Homo sapiens: one gene and its partners. The protein of the gene in region 1 interacts with the protein of each later gene in a biochemical or structural test. Each region holds a gene or a part of one and is shown on either strand. Other genes may lie near its edges.

Region 1 (3,500 bases):
GCTTGAGCCCGGGAGGCAGAGGTTGCAGTGAACCAAGATTGCACCACTGCACTCCAGCCTGGGCAACAGTGCAAGACTCCGTTTCAAAAAAAAAAACTCATATATACAGTCCTCAATTTAACAATGCTTCTATTTAACAATGTTTAGACTTTCTGTGAAAGCAATCAGTAGACACTTACTTCTCCAAGTCCTCACATAACCATTCTGGTTTTCACCTTCAGTACAGTATTCAAGTAATTACATGAGATATTTAACACCTTATTATAAAATAGGCCAGGTGGCCAGGTGCAGTGGCTCACACCTATAATCCCAGAACTCTGGGGGGTCAAGGCAGGTAGATCACCTGAGATCAGGAGTTCAAGACCAGCCTGGCCAACACAGTCAAACCCCGTGTCCACTAAAAATACAAAAATTAGCCGGGTGTGGTGGCAGGCGCCTGTAGTTCCAGCTACTCAGGAGGCTGAAGCAGGAGAATTGCTCGAGCCCAGGAGGCAGAGGTTGCACTGAGCTGAGATCGCGCCACTGCACTCCAGCCTGGGTGACAGGAGTGAAACCCTGTCTCAAAAAAATTAATTAATTAAATAAATAAAATTTTAAAATAAAATAAAATAGGCCAGGTGCAGTGACTCACAACTGTAAACCCAATATTTCGGGTGGTGGAGGTAGGAGGATTGCTTGAGGGCAGGTGTTTGAGACCCCACCTCTACAAAAAATAATAACAATAATCTTTGTGTTAGATAATTTTGCCCAACTGTACCCTGACATAAGTGTTCTGAGCATGTTTAAAGGAGGCTAGGCTAAACTATGACGTTTGGTATCTTAGGTGTATTAAATGTAATTTCAATTTAACAATATTTTCAACTTAGAATGGTTTTATTTAGACATAATGCCATTGAAAGTTGAGGAGCATCTGTGTACTTTGGAAAGCAAAAGAAGACAAAAAATCAGGTGGCTTGATATAAAAGTCAAAAAGAAATTGTACAATAACCTGCTGCATTACTCCAAAGGGTCCATTTACATAAAATGTCACTGGTACCCCTTTTCCCCCAGGCTTGCTCCTAAAGTGAAACACACCTGTTCGTTCAATCTATATTCCCTGACACCTAAGGACCCAGTGACTTAATGAGGCAGAACACAAAGGAAGACAGCTCTTAACAACTCCACCTATCCCTTTGTGATGCTAAATAACCATAGGGCTTATCTTTTCAGCATCCTAAATGGCCTTCCGGCCTTGATGTAATCTTGCAGGAACCATTCTTTTATAAACTGGAGACCGTAACAGAGGCTTCCACCCTTGTCTTAGAATTAACCTGATAGACAGTTAGACTGTCATAACAGGCTGGGTGCAGTGGCTCATACCTGTAATCCCAGCACTTTGGGAGGCCAAGGCAAGAGGACCACTTGAGGCCACGAGTTCAATACCAGCCTGGCCAACATAGTGGGACCCCCCCCGCCCCCCGTACAAAAAATAAGAAAATTAGACATGATGGCATGCAGCTGTGGGCTCAGCTACTCAGGAAGGTGAGGTGGGAGGATCACTTGAGCCCAGGAGTTGAAGGCTGCAGTGAGCTATGATCATACCACTTACATACCAGCCTGGGTGGCAGAGTGAGACCCTATCTCCAAAGAACAGAAAACAAACCAAGACTCTGATAACAGAACCACCAGTAAAATCAAAGTAACATCCACTGCTGACCTAATCGGATTAACAAAAAAAAGGGAGGGAGAGGAGGGCATTCTCTTCCTCCCCAAACTCAGGCTACTACTCTAGGAGAACATAGGAAACAACACTATAGTAGTCCCCACCATCAGAGGGGGATAAGATCCAAGACCCCCCAGTGGATGCCTGAAACCTCGCATAGTACAGAACCCTATATAAATTATGCACAACTTTCTTTTTCCTTCTTCACAATTTCACAAATAGAAGATTAGTTCTTACCATAGACGTTAGCAGCCTCAGCATACAAATTTTTTTATTTCCATATTAAATTGAGATCTTTCACCTTTTCAGTAAAAGGAAACACTTTACAGCTTCTCTTTACAATATCCAAATTGCCAGCATCTTTTGCTTTGGGGCCATTATTAAATATAAGGGTGACATGAACACAAGCACTGCAAAACCATGTAATTTAAGACTTATGAACTGATTATTTCTTTTTTTTTTTTTTTTTGAAACGGAGTCTCAGTCACCCAGGCTGGAGTGCAGTGGCACAATTTTGGCTCATTGCAACCTCCACCTCCTGGGTTCAAGCAATTCTCCTGCTTCAGCCTTCCAAGTAGTTGGGATTACAGGCGCACACCACCATGCCCGGCTAATTTGTATATTTTTTTTAGTAGAGACAGGGTTTTCACCGTATTGGCCAGCCTGGTCTCAAACTGCAGACCTCAGGTGATCCTCAGGTCCACCTCAGCCTCCCAAACTGCTAGGATTACAGGCCTGAGCCACCATGCCCAGCCATGAATTGACTATTTCTTATGAATTTTCCACTTAATAGTTTCAGATCGCAGCTGACCATTGGTAAGTGAAACTACTACCGCTGATAAGGAGGGACTAAGATACCCACACTGATTGTATTTACACAGCTTTCAAGATACAAAGGTTCTGCCAGGTGTGGTGGTTCATGTCTGTAATCCCAGCACTTTGGGAGGCCAACGCAGGTAGATTGCTTGAGCCCAGGAATTCAAGACCAGCCTGGGCACCATGGTGAAATCCAGTATCTACAGAAAATACAAAAAATTAGCAGGGCATGGTGGTGTGCACCTGTAGTCCCAGCTACTTGGGAAGCTGAGGTGGGAGGATCACTTGAGTCCAGGAGGTTGAGGCTGCAGTGAGCCGTGATCGAGCCTGCACTCCAGCCTGGGTGACAGAGCGAGACCCTGTCTCAAGGAAAATAAAAAAGATACAAAGGTTCTGATGAGTTTTCTTTAAAACATACCAGGAAGGCAATGCCAAAACTGAGTATGCCACACCAGGGACTGCTGGTCTAATACTACCTGAGCCAGGCTGAGTCTTCCCCACAGCTTTTTAAGCAAGACAGGACAACTGGAGAAAATGTGTCAACAAGTTACTATGAGAGATTAGAGGCAAGCGGATCTGGAGTCAGACACTTGAGTGAAACTGTGCATGACTTTAGGTAGATCACAACTTCTCTAAACCTGTTTTCTCATCTGAAAATAAGTAGACAGACCATGAGGATTAAGTGAAGTGACGCATGTAATACTCCCCCCACCCACCCATGCTTGCTATCTGGGAGCTATTGCTATTGGAAAGCCATGCAGAGAAGTGAGTGAAAAACCAAAGTGAGGGCAGCAAAACTCCAGGACTGTAGACAGAAATCCAGTCCCAAAACCTATAAAACTACTAGAAGAAAACACTGGGGAAGTGCTCCAGGACACTCATCTTGGGCACAGGTTTTTTGGGCACAGGGTTTTTACGTAAGACCTCAAAAGCACAGGCAACTAAAGCAAAAACAGACAACTGGGATTTCATCAAGCTAAAA
Region 2 (3,729 bases), on another chromosome or scaffold:
TGGCAGTCGGGGGCGCTTTCTTCCCTCGGAGTGGAAAGATTCAGCCTGCGGAGTGGTGTATGCTATTTTTCTCTTGAACTGTACAGCCCTTCATGACCCTTCCATGGGCTTGAATCCAGATGTGCAGTTTCCTTTGTATAATTAAATACTATCCTGGGCACTGATGATGAGTTTGAAATTATGTGAAATTGCCCTGTGAAGTGTTTGAACGTTTTAGACCTGCAGATGATTGAACCTAGTAAGATAGTCTGCCCCTTTGTCCTAGTACATGTTTACCGTTCCGTACAGTGGTTCTGAAATGATTACTGCAGAGCAGCGTTAATGGAGTGCTTACTTTACATGAGCTTTTTGTTTTTTAATTCGAGGTAATGGCACCATTGACTTCCCCGAATTTTTGACTATGATGGCTAGAAAAATGAAAGATACAGATAGTGAAGAAGAAATCCGTGAGGCATTCCGAGTCTTTGACAAGGTAATCCAGCATCTACATAGCAGATGGTACTTAAGTATGGCTTCTTCCGCTTTCACTTCTAAAAGCTATAATAATGTTATAGACAGAAGACTTAAATCTAACTGCCTGAGCCTCTGATCTCACTTTCAAAAATCCTCCTTATGGTAACCGTATCAGGGGAGGGTAGGCATAATAAATAGGAATTTTGGACCATGTTTCTTGACTGTTACTTTGAATTGTTGTGAGCTTTTGCAAATCCTGTTTTCTGCATTAGCTGTTTGCATGTATTTAGTAGGTTAGAGGTGGGAACTAGAGATCAGAGAATTGTTTATGGCAGCAGAGTTAGCAGTAACTTGAGAGGGCATAGCTAAGTCAAAGACCTACTTCCCCACACTACATCATTAGCAATAACAATTGCTGAATGTTCACAGGATGGCAATGGTTATATCAGTGCAGCAGAACTACGTCACGTCATGACAAACTTAGGAGAAAAACTAACAGATGAAGAAGTAGATGAAATGATCAGAGAAGCAGATATTGATGGAGACGGACAAGTCAACTATGAAGGTAAAACTAAATTCTCTGAGCTCAGTGTTTCATAGTCTTACCTTTAGATCTGTAAGCAAGCCAACTGCTTCACTAGACAGCCTTTGACTTTATTTTATGTACAGTAAAGATGTTGTGTTCATTAAAGCTGTTTTCAAAGATAACCAAAAGTTACTATTATATTTGTCTTTTCAGAATTCGTACAGATGATGACTGCAAAATGAAGACCTACTTTCAACTCCTTTTTCCCCCCTCTAGAAGAATCAAATTGAATCTTTTACTTACCTCTTGCAAAAAAAAGAAAAAAGAAAAAAGTTCATTTATTCATTCTGTTTCTATATAGCAAAACTGAATGTCAAAAGTACCTTCTGTCCACACACACAAAATCTGCATGTATTGGTTGGTGGTCCTGTCCCCTAAAGATCAAGCTACACATCAGTTTTACAATATAAATACTTGTACTACCTTAATGATAAGGACTCCTTAAAGTTCCATTTGCTAATGATTAATACACTGTTTGGGCTGGCCAGTTTTTCATGCATGCAGCTTGACGATTGAGCACAGTCAGGCCTTTGTATTAAAAATGAAAAATGAAAAAACAAATTCAAAACCTATTCAAATGGGTTCTAGTTCAATTTGTTTAGTATAAATTGTCATAGCTGGTTTACTGAAAACAAACACATTTAAAATTGGTTTACCTCAGGATGACGTGCAGAAAAATGGGTGAAGGATAAACCGTTGAGACGTGGCCCCACTGGTAGGATGGTCCTCTTGTACTTCGTGTGCTCCGACCCATGGTGACGATGACACACCCTGGTGGCATGCCCGTGTATGTTGGTTTAGCGTTGTCTGCATTGTTCTAGAGTGAAACAGGTGTCAGGCTGTCACTGTTCACACAAATTTTTAATAAGAAACATTTACCAAGGGAGCATCTTTGGACTCTCTGTTTTTAAAACCTTCTGAACCATGACTTGGAGCCGGCAGAGTAGGCTGTGGCTGTGGACTTCAGCACAACCATCAACATTGCTGTTCAAAGAAATTACAGTTTACGTCCATTCCAAGTTGTAAATGCTAGTCTTTTTTTTTTTTTTTCCAATAAAAAGACCATTAACTTAAAGTGGTGTTAAATGCTTTGTAAAGCTGAGATCTAAATGGGGACAAGGCAGGTGGAGGGGAGGCCAGTGTACATGTAAATGCCCACAGCCCAGCATTGGGTTTCCCTCCCAAGGCCCCAGCACCAACCTCTGAGCCCAAGACCTTGCCTGAAAACAAGCAGATACCGATTGCTTCATCCTATTTATGGACATGTAGGTCTAGTTGCATTTTCACTGGGGGGAGGGGGGAAGGTGAATTATGGTAACTTTTAATGATCTATTCAGGCAGTAGAGCTCTTAAGGAAAAAAAAAAACCCACTTTCTCTCAAGCATGTATTTAGGGGTTGTTCTCAATTGTGCTGCTGATTACCTGTCTTATGTAACTACTTGAGACCATCTGCAAGAGACATGATTTAGTGTGTCTGTAATTCAATCTTCGCTGTGTGTGGTAGAAGCAGTAGTCACTTTTGTAAGCCAGTCTCTTCATGCCTAAAAGACACTACCAGTCACCTTTGATTCGCGACTTTTAATTTATGATTATACTTAGCCTCCTCCTCCTTTTTTTTTTTTTCCCAAGTTGACTTGACTTTGCTTTTTTCCCCCCAAGTAGAACTAATGCTAGCTTCCAGCTTGAAAGTAAAACTCCAGTGTGGAGTGAATTTTGTGTCTAATTATAAACCTGTAACCAAAACTCAGACATCTGGTACTGGTCTTTGCATTGAGATTGGTCCCTGTAAAACCCCCTTTAAAAGCATATTGCATTTAGTACAGAGCTCTTTTTTGAAATGAAGGCTGGAGATGTGCATTTTTCACGGTGTTAACTGGTTGTATCTTATTAGCAAGGAGATTGGGGTTTTGAGTGTTTGCGTGGGTGGTTTCAATTTGCCAGGGAACAGTGGCAGGCTGCTAGCAAGGCAGTGAGAAGCTCTTGGCAGCCAAATGGGTGCATTCAGGGCTGATTTATAGAGACCCTTGGCTTCTCCTTCTCCTACTCCCTGTCTTTCTGGCATTTTGTAGCTTGTTAGATTTTCTGCCAGAGGGGTGGGTCAGAGCAGTGGAGGGGAGACATCGCCCATGTGCTTCTGCTACTGGTCCTTGGGCTGGGTGGTTGGTAGAGGAGATGTTGACACTATGAGCTAAGGGTTGGCTTTTGTAATTACCTGAATCTGAAAGGAATGCCTAAGGTTACCTTGGGGTTTCTCTTCTGGTGAGATAGGGTTCCTGGTTTGAGTAAGTTAATGTCCTGGATATTTCTTGTGGCAGGGGGTGGTCAAAGAGCCTGATTGCTGACCCAGTCTCAGGCCTGTGGTCGATGACCTCTCGGTAGTTTCAAAGGGGGCTGGAGGGGGATATTTGACTTGTTTTTTCGAAATGTAGCCTTCTAACCCTCAAGTCTTTAGAAGCTGGGTGGACTCTTAGTGGTCCTGCAGCGTATCCTAAAAGACTACCTTTGAAACAGGATTCTTGTATGGCCAGGATCCTGTCTGGGAACCAGAAACCCTACACCCTCCCCCTCCAGGGAATGCTGAGTTCCAGTTTTGAGCAGAGGTGAGGCAGAATCCACTGTAGCCTTCCGCCCTGGTATTTGGGGGGATGACCAGCCCAGGCGTTGGGTGTTAGTCTGCATGAGTTTGTGAG
Region 3 (3,729 bases), on another chromosome or scaffold:
TAATTATATTTCTTAAATGTGATATTTAATGCATGTTTTTCTCCTCAGCTAAAGCTCTACTATGGCAAGAACCTACTGTGGGGTATTTTTTGTCTCCCATTTGTGCCTTAGCACTAAGTATAGAATGATATATATTTAATATATTTTATTATGTATTGGGGTAAGCAAAAGAAAAGATACATCTTGCTTTTCTCTGATTTTTTTCCCTCTACCATTTTATTGCCCACTGTGTTCCTGAAAATAAATAGCAGTTGCATTAAAATGGAAATCTCTATGGAACATAGCTTTTTCACTCTTAGCAATTCTTTTCCCTGTCTGCAAAGTTTTCTTGTTTATTTTTCACTGACCTGTTCTGATCTAAAATCAACTTTTTTTTCCCCCTTCCTTAAGCTTTTTTATTTGGGGGAACCCTTTTAGAGTAATTTTGTAAAGTATTGCTCAACTATTACCCGCCCAGAATATACATACACATATAAATGTATGTATACCTATAACCAACTTGTATTTTGGGGTGGGGTGGGACAGAAAAAACAATGTAAAGATTAAAATAGTCAGTGTTAGCATTATATAATCAAAGGCTGATAGTTTGGGGGAAGTTAACTGTACTAGAGTTTGAAATTTTAAGTCAGCTTTGAAGAAGAGATGAAGTGGACATTGTCTCTCCACTATCTTAATTTAAAATTTTACTTAGCCTGTACCAAGGCTTTTCATTCCCTTGTAACATTTTTAAGGATTTCTGGTTTTTTTATTTATTTTTATTTTTTATTGTGCATCTGAGTGGAGAATAGAGAAAAAATTGGCATGGTGAAACTAAAAATTGGTTAAAATGTATGACAGGCTTGCTAAAGGGATATTATGGCTGTCAGCTAAAATAAAAGTAAGGAGGATGGGTTGGTTCATGAATCTTACTTGCTTAAATTGTTCATATCTTTTCCACTGTCAAAGAAAATTAGATTGGTTATAAAGTTTTTACAGAGAAATTTCTTTTCCCTTAAGCTTATTTAAATATTTTATCAAATGAAGTCTGTGAGGGATATTAGAGATAAAGGAGATTTATAATACATTTATGTAACATTTCACATATCTAACTTATTTGGTACTCATCAATATTATAATTGTATTTATCCTTTTAATATATTGGGTAATATTTATCCTACTAATTTTCTCTTTTTTACTTTTAGCAAAGTGTGGGATGCTGTCTCAGGAGATGAATTGATGACCCTGGCTCATAAACACATTGTCAAGACTGTGGATTTCACGCAGGTATCAGAAAATGGAATTTATTTTAGCGAGTTAAGTTGCTGGTACATAGTGTGATAATGCTTTTATACTTGATTGGTGTGTATATTTGATTGATATGTTTTGTGTGGAATATTTGTTATTTCTTGGTTCATATTTGATTTGATTGTGTATTAAGCTCTATGAATTTGTTTCATAGTTAATCCTGTCAAGCTTTTAAGATACTGTGGAACGAGTACCAGTCCTTCAACATGTAAAAAACATCTGAAAAGCTCAAGTAGCCTTCCCCAACTACTAATAGAAGGGAGAAGATAAATTTGAGATAATCAGAAAAGGGCCTCTCACAAGGGAGAGGAGTAGGATCAGGGGAGAATGGGAGAGTTCATGTATATGTAGTGTAGTGTAACGCTTTTGAAGTGGAAAGCTTACAAGTCTTGGCAGTTATGAGAGGTCAGCTGTTCCACAGTATCTTCTCAGAAGTAATTGGTTATGTCTTGGCATCTCTTTGTGATGTCTGTGAGCTAGATTTTGATTTTATTTGGTGTTGAAATTTGAAAGAGAAATAACTATTAAAATGGTTAATCTATTCACATTTTACTTTGTGTTTTCAGGATAGTAATTATTTGTTAACCGGGGGACAGGATAAACTGTTACGCATATATGACTTGAACAAACCTGAAGCAGGTAAGCATAATTTAAACATCAGCTTCTAGTTTTATTTTCTTTTAATTTAAATAACTGATTAAAGAATTTCATGCTCAGTACTCAAATTTGGAAAATAAAGATAGTCATGGCCGGGCACGGTGGCTCATACCTGTAATCCTAGCACTTTGGGAGACTGAGGCGGGTGGATCACTTGAGGTCAGGAGTTCGAGACCAGCCTGGCCAACATGGCAAAACCCCGTCTCTATTAAAAATAGAAAAATTAGCCAGGCATGGTGGCAGGCGCTTGTAATCCCAGCTACTTGGGAGGCTGAGGCAGGAGAATCGCTTGAACCCGGGAGGTGGAGGTTGCAGTGAGCCGAGATTGCGCCACTGCACTCCAGCCTGGGCAATAAGAGTGAAACTCAGTTTCAAAAAAAAAAAAATAGTCAACAAAGAAGAAAATTAAAACGTAATTCATCAGTTTTTGGTTTATAAACTTTCAGTCTTTTTTTCTGCACAGTTTTTAAAAAATAAGTTTATTTGCTATGTTGCTATTGTATAACCTTCTTCCAAACTGAAAATTTATTATGGCAAATTTTTATCATTAAGTTTTAAAACAGTGCAGAACAGTGTTACTATTTTTTGGTAAGAAAGATTGGTTATTTATAGAAGTTGGTGATGGTGAGAATTCTCAGTTGTGTGCACATATTGCTTAGATTTTTGAACCATGTAAATATATTAGCTATTCGAAAGAATTTTAAAAAATCTGCAGTTACAGTTTTTTCATTTCACTAAATAGTCTATGAACTGTTTGTAATGACTTTCTGGTTTTCCATCCTGTGGTTATATCATAAGTGAATTAACTAGTTTCCTGTTTTGGCCCGTTTGGGCTACTTACAGATTTTAAATATGAAAAGCAGTATTATGCTAAACATCCTTACAGTTGCAAATATTTTCACAATGATTTCCTTAAGATAACTAAGCAAAAGTAGAATTGGTGGGACAAAGAGGAGTGGAATTGTTGGAAGGTGGCCGGGCGCAGTGGCTCACGCCTGTAATCCCAGTGCTTTGGGAGGCCAAGGTGAGTGGATCACCTGAGGTCAGGAGTTCAATACCAGCCTGGCCAACATGGTGAAACCCCATCTCTACTAAAAGTACAAAAAAATTAGCTGGGCATGGTGGCAGGCGCCTGTAATTCCCAGGTACTCAGGAGGGTGAGGCAGGAGAATCGCTTGAACCCGGGAGGTAGAGGTTGCAGTGAGCCGAGATTGCATACCAGCCTGGGGGACAAGAGCAAAACTCCTTCTCAAAAAGAAAAAAAAAAAATGAATTGTTGGAAGCCATTGATAGATACTACCAAAGTGTCTTCCAACAAAGTATGGGTATATATGTATGTATCTATACCCAACATGTTCTAGTGAGCACTGATAACTAACTTTCTCTTTGTCAATTTAAGAAAATAATTCTGTTGTATTAATGTGAATATTCATGAGATTAAAATGCTATTGAATACCATTTTAATATATTCCCTTTTTTATGGAATAATTGCCTGTCTACCTTTTGTCCATTTATCTGTTGTGTTATTCATGTTTTTCTTACTGGTTTTTAAAGGTTCTTTATTGAATTCTAATTTATCATTTGCTTTTAAATTTTGTTAAGGTGGTTTTATGGTATATATGTTTTTAACATTTTGGTGGTGAAATTCTTTATGCATTCTCTCATTTTACAGAAGTTATAGGTGTCTTCCCCAGTCTACATGTTTATTTTATAATATTTTAATAATTTCCCTCACCATATATATACTTAGCTACCAAAACATGACAAACATAATTTTGTTTTATTATA

The links.
Region 2: the proteins of CHEK2 (region 1) and CALM1 form a complex in vitro, tested with the Homo sapiens proteins (one study listed by BioGRID).
Region 3: of the proteins of CHEK2 (region 1) and STRAP, one has a biochemical effect on the other in vitro, tested with the Homo sapiens proteins (one study listed by BioGRID and IntAct).

The regions. Positions count from the first base shown.
Region 1 is NC_000022.11:28,735,321-28,738,820, forward strand, and holds part of CHEK2 (serine/threonine-protein kinase Chk2), read right to left. Parts: exon of another isoform or gene 1,964-3,500; coding exon of another isoform or gene 1,940-1,963; intron 1-1,939. UniProt on the Homo sapiens protein: Serine/threonine-protein kinase which is required for checkpoint-mediated cell cycle arrest, activation of DNA repair and apoptosis in response to the presence of DNA double-strand breaks.
Region 2 is NC_000014.9:90,403,497-90,407,225, forward strand, and holds part of CALM1 (calmodulin-1), read left to right. Parts: intron 1-365; coding exon 366-472; intron 473-882; coding exon 883-1,018; intron 1,019-1,192; coding exon 1,193-1,221; 3' UTR 1,222-3,729. UniProt on the Homo sapiens protein: Calmodulin acts as part of a calcium signal transduction pathway by mediating the control of a large number of enzymes, ion channels, aquaporins and other proteins through calcium-binding. Calcium-binding is required for the activation of calmodulin.
Region 3 is NC_000012.12:15,888,747-15,892,475, forward strand, and holds part of STRAP (serine-threonine kinase receptor-associated protein), read left to right. Parts: intron 1-1,181; coding exon 1,182-1,263; intron 1,264-1,850; coding exon 1,851-1,923; intron 1,924-3,729. UniProt on the Homo sapiens protein: The SMN complex catalyzes the assembly of small nuclear ribonucleoproteins (snRNPs), the building blocks of the spliceosome, and thereby plays an important role in the splicing of cellular pre-mRNAs.